Regions from separate parts of the Homo sapiens genome. Here region 2 is linked to region 1. Evidence: fine-mapped expression QTL. A gene starts in region 1. The other region holds a variant in brackets. All regions are shown on one strand. Distances are from middle to middle. Region 1 holds the start of GXYLT1 (glucoside xylosyltransferase 1). Region 2 has its middle 82 kb from the start of GXYLT1.

Evidence for each region. PIP is the estimated chance that this variant, and not a neighbour inherited with it, causes the effect.
Region 2: its variant is fine-mapped to the expression of GXYLT1 in fibroblasts (GTEx, PIP above 0.99). The same link has a PIP of 0.9 or more in subcutaneous fat.

The regions. Positions count from the first base shown.
Region 1 is chr12:42,143,152-42,146,064 of GRCh38, forward strand. GXYLT1 (glucoside xylosyltransferase 1) reads right to left here and starts at 1,723. Exons shown (of 8, transcript NM_173601.2): 1 at 1,275-1,723. The coding sequence starts at 1,495. RefSeq lists silencers at 1,111-1,340, 1,421-1,920 and an enhancer at 2,081-2,150.
Region 2 is chr12:42,061,896-42,064,808 of GRCh38, forward strand. No RefSeq gene overlaps it. Among named protein-coding and RNA genes, the nearest start is that of GXYLT1, 82 kb to the right of the region's middle. The variant C/T (reference allele first, on the strand shown) is at 1,085.

The sequences.
Region 1 (2,913 bases):
AATTTCATTCAATATTTAATTAAAATGTTGCTTCCTTACAATTCTACCCCATATAAAAATAATTCCTTTTCCATAATTGCAAATGCTTCACAATAACATACTAGGCCATAAACAGTTTAGCTTCAACCTGTCATTTTTCACGAGCTCATTCAAGTCTTCAGTGACTGCTTTCTCCCAGGACAGACAACTGAGGGTCCTGATGTAGGAATTACCCTGACTGTAATCAAATCTCAGGGTAAAAACATGACAAGTCCGCTTTCCACGCTGCTCCTCTGCCCAAACTTTCCCCTTTCATTCTGGGAATGACCATCGACTCTCAAAATGATGTTAAACAACAGCCCACAACTGATCTATACTCCCTCTTCCGACAAACCCTATACTTCTCTATATCAAAGCAGCATTTGCCAAGTCTTGGTAGGGAGCACTTCAGGTCATTCCCAGAGAGATGCCCATACATAAGGTGGAAGTGTCCATGTTGCAAGGCAGTGCAAACGCTCAGATTTCAAGCATTCATAATGCGTTGACAGAAACATTTTTTTTCTATTTAAATCTCATGTTGATTCCCACTCTGGCAGTGATTACGTCCTAAGTCATTACGTCGCTTTTTAAATACCAATTTGTCAAGAAAGGTAACTCCATCCCATCCAACAACAGACTTGAGCACGCCAAGTATCGCTCATTTTTCTTAATTTGCTCTAAGTTTCTTAATAAACTGAGTGTTTCCAAAAGAAAATTTCACAACCCGCACAAATGCCATTTCCAAATTTAACTAACCATGGCTAATACTTAGAAGTGTAAGCGTTAACACAGGAAAATCAGCATGAGGGACAAAATACACACACATATACACTCACACACACACACACAATCCTTAAACACTGAACTAGGGCGCCAGCCTCATGTTTAAATATCTCAACTTGAACTCCACTGAAACAAGAGGAAATTCTCACTAGCCAGGCAGCAGTAAGGCTTTTGTGGACACCTCTTATTTTCAAAGAACCCTCTTTTTAAAAAGTTGAAAATTAATTTCTAACTGCTTTAAAGGGCGCATGACTGGGTCAAAAGATAAACACAGAAAGTGTAGGACACTCTCAGGCGGGAGCAGCGCAGGTTTAGCCCCGGCCGGAGGGGAAGGAGGGAAATGAGTGAGGGGTCAGAGACAGGAGGAAAGACGCGGGAGACGCGGCACCCACCGGCGAGCAGCCCGGGCTAGGCCGAGCCCGCGCCCAGCGCCCCGCGCCCGCCGCGTCCCCCACACCGGGAACTGCCCGTACCTGTCCGACACGCCGGGATGCGCTGCGGGGCCCGCGACGCCGGCGCCTCTCACGGCGCCGCGTCCGCCGCCCGCGAGCCAGGAAGCCACCGCGGCCTGCGGCTTCCCGCCACCGCCGCCCGTTCCTTCTTCCAGGGACACGGCGAGCTGGCTGAAAGCGTAAAGGAGCGAGCAGAAGCCGCAGGCCACACACAGCACCACGACGCGCAGGTAGCGCCGCATCGCCCCGGCCGCGCTCCTCCTTCGCCGCCGCCGCCGCGCCCGCCCCGACGAACTGGAGCGGAGGGAGGGGCACCGCGCAGCCGCGGGCGCAACAAGTTCCTCACCCGCAGCCGCCGCCGCCGCCTTGCGCCCGCTCCCTTCCTTCCCTCCCCGCCCACCACCTAGGCGAGCGCAGTCGCGGCTCCGGAGCCGAAGGACTACCCGCCCGGAAGCCTGGACACCGCCTCTGCCGCCGCGCGCTCAAGGGTCAGCGGCAGCGACGCAACCCCGCCCCTCCCCCGGGCGGGAGGGCTGGACGCGCCGGCGCAGTTCGCGTGGGAGGGACGCAGGGCTGGCGCGCAGAGGGTGGTGTGAGTGCGCGGAACGCGGCGCGCCTGAGGGCTATAGCTAGCGCAGGCCGACGCGCAGGTGAATGGGAGCCCTGTGGGTCTCGACCGCCGAGAGAGGGGGAGCGAAAGCCTCAGGGCTCTGGAGGCAGTTGACCTAAATTCTAATTATGGTCCTTCCACATGGTAGTTTGTGACATTGGGCAACCTAAATTCTCTGAGCATGTTTCTTCGTCCCTAAAATGGAGCTACTATCCTCATCATGGGGTGGTTGTAAAGATTAAACTGTTTAACGCTCGAAAACCGCCTAACACTTAGAAGACACTTGACTAGGCCAGTTTCCTCTCCATCCTCCCCCAGCCTCTAAGTTTCTGTGATACTATAATGTGCACGAGCCATTTTCACCCCGATAAGCTCATTGCTTCGTGTGTTTGGTATGCGGACCTTACCTCTTGCCTCCCAGCAGACAGTGAGTTCCTGTAAGGCAGGGCTCTTCCCTTTGACCTTTTTGACCTCCCTCACAACTCATTATTTTCATGTGCAAAACAATTAGTATTCTCTCCACAGAGCTTCTTTCTTCCCCAGTTCTTCTCCCTCTTCTTCTGTGTTTCCACTACGTTCATTCATTGACCATTTATAAAGCATCACTTGTGCCAAGCTCTGTGTGAGTACCTAGGGGTATAAAGAGGCCTAAGTGGAGCGTGGGTGGGACAGCGGATACTTGTAAATAAGCGCAACGCAGTGATAACAGACTTAAGATCCAGGCCTGTAAGGGTGTGGGCATACACACAAAGGAACAATCAGTTCTATCTGTGAGTATGGTCAAGAGAGACTTCATAGCAAAGGTGGCGCTAGAGTCTTGAGTCGGGTAAGGGAAGTAATTCCAGGCTGAAGGATCAATAAACAGGCTCTTGTGTAGGGAACTGTTGAGAAGTTTGATACCACCAGCTAAGTGAATGCAAGAGAGGGTATGATGAGCGATAAGCGCGTAGAAGGGGCCAGATATTTGAGTGCTTTGTTTAGCACACCAAGGAGTTTGAATTTAATCTGCAAGACATTAGTGAACCATTGAAGGGTTTTTAAATAGGGAAG
Region 2 (2,913 bases), 81 kb before region 1:
ACAGCCAAATTATCCAACATGGGAACTCTAGAACAAACACATTTTTTAGGTGTGCAAGATGGGACACTGATTGTTGCCCTTCAATAGCTTTCTTCTTCTTTCTGTCCTCCTCCTCCTTCTTCTTTTTCTTCTTCTTCTCCTTCTCCTTCTCCTTTGCCTTCTGTAGTAAACATGACAAATTCTATCTGGACCCATGAAGATCCAGAATATGTAAAAATTTTCCAACTTTCATTCTAGCTAGATGTGTCCATGTGACTAAGCTTTGGGCCAAAAGTATGTAAGTAGAAGTAATTGATGGTACTCCCCAAAAGTTTTATTAAAAGCTAAAAGCAGGCCCTTTTCCTTCCATTTTTTTTCTCCATAGCTAAAAAGGAGATGGTAGATGGAACCAGAATGGCATTCTTATACTACTGGTGGAAGCTATTTGTTAGGAATGACCAAGGAGCAGGCTAGAAGGAGATTGAGTCCCTGATAATAACAGAACTTCCAAATCAGCTTTGACTACATTTATGTGAGAGAATAAGCTTCTATCTTCTTTTTTCTCATTTAAAAGAAAATTATCAACTTGATCATATAAGTTTAAAGATGTAACCATCTTACTTTGTTACATCTCCATCAAGATAGTTCAGTATTTAGGTTACAGGTATATGACTGAGAGTTCAATTCTCTTTTGTGATAAGCATGGATTATTCGAGCTATCATTCAATATTCACTTTTCAGATACATGAAGCTTGTTGACTCACATTCAAATTCACATTTGCTACTTTTTAAAATCATTTCTCGGGGCCAGGCATGGTGGGTCATGCCTGTAATCCCAGGACTTTGGGAGGCCTAGGTGGGTGGATCACTTGGGCTCAAGAGTTTGAGACCAGCCTGGGCAACATGGTGAAACCCCATCTCTATCAAAAATACAAAAAGTTAGCTGGGTATGGTGGCACACACCTGTGGTCCCAGCTACTCAGGAGGCTGAGATAGGAGGATTGTTTGAGCCAGGGAGGCAGAGGTTGCAGTGAGCCAAGATCGTACCATTGCACTCCAGCCTGGGTGACAAAGTGAGACCCCCTCTCAAAAAAAAATCATTTCT[C/T]GGAGGAGCCAAGATGGCCGAATAGGAACAGCTTTGGTCTACAGCTCCCAGCGTGAGCGATGCAGAAGACAGGTGATTTCTGCATTTCCAACTGAGGTACTGGGTTCATCTCACTGGGGAGTGGCAGACAGTAGGCACAGGATAGTGAGTGCAGCGCACTGCACGCGAGCCAAAGCAGGGCGAGGCATTGCCTCACCTGGGAAGCGCAAGGGGTCAGGGAATTCCCTTTCCTAGTCAAAGAAAGGGGTGGCAGATGGCACCTGGAATATTGGGTCACTCCCACCCTAATACTGCGCTTTTCCAATGGGCTTAAAAAACGGCACACCAGGAGATTATATCCCTCACCTGGCTCAGAGGGTCCTATGCCCACGGAGTCTGGCTCACTGCTAGCGCAGCAGTCCGAGATCAAACTGTAAGGCAGCAGCGAGGCTGGGGGAGGGGCATCCACCATTGCCAAGTTAGTTGTTTGATTAGGTAAACAAAGTGGCCAGGAAGCTCAAACTGGGTGGAGCCCACCACAGCTCAAGGAGGCCTGCCTGCCTCTGTAGGCTCCACCTCTGGGGGCAGGGCACAGACAAACAAAAAGACAGCAGTAACCTCTGCAGACTTAAATGTCCCTCTCTGACCACTTTGAAGAGAGTAGTGGTTCTCCCAGCATGCAGCTGGAGATCTGAGAATGGGCAGACTGCCTCCTCAAGTGGGTCCCTGACCCCCGAGTAGCCTAACTGGGAGGCACCCCCCAGTAGGGGCGGACTGACACCTTACACGGCCGGGTACTCCTCTGACACAAAACTTCCAGAGGAACCATCAGGCAGCAGCATTTGCGGTTCACCAATATCTGCTGTTCTGCAGCCACCGCTGCTGATACCCAGGCAAACAGGGTCTGGAGTGGACTTCTAGCAAACTCCAACAGACCTGCAGCTGAGGGTCCTGTCTGGTAGAAGGAAAACTAACAAACAGAAAGGACATCCACACCAAAAACCCCTCTGTACGTCACCATCATCAAAGACCAAAGGTAGATAAAACCACAAAGATGGGAAAAAAACAGAGCAGAAAAACAGGAAACTCTAAAAATCAGAGCATCTCTCCTCCTCCAAAGGAACGCAGCTCCTCACCAGCAACAGAACAAAGCTTCGTGGAGAATGACTCTGATGAGTTGAGAGAAGACGGCTTCAGACGATCAAACTACTCCGAACTACAGGAGGAAATTCGAACCAATGGCAAAGAAGTTAAAAGCTTTGAAAAAAAATTAGATGAATGGATAAATAGAATAACCAATGCAGAGAAGTCCTTAAAGGACCTGATGGAGCTGAAAACCAAGGCACAAGAGCTACGTGACGAACGCAGAAGCCTCAGTAACTGATGCGATCAACTGGAAGAAAGGGTATCAGTGATGGAAGATGAAACGAATGAAATGAAGCGAGAAGAGAAGTTTAGAGAAAAAAGAATAAAAAGAAACGAACAAAGCCTCCAAGAAATATGGGACTATGTGAAAAGACCAAATCTACGTCTGATTGGTGTACCTGAAAGTGACAGGGAGAATGGAATCAAGTTGGAAAACACTCTGCAGGATATTATCCAGCAGAACTTCCCCAATCTAGCAAGGCAGGCCAACATTCAAATTCAAGAAATACAGAGAACGCCACAAAGATATTCCTCGAGAAGAGCAACTCCAAGACACAGAATTGTCAGATTCACCAAAGTTGAAATGAAGGAAAAAATCTTAAGGGCAGCCAGAGGTTGGGTTACCCACAAACGGAAGCCCATCAGACTAACAGCTGATCTCTCAGCAGAAACTCTACAAGCCAGAAGAGAGTGGGGACCAATAT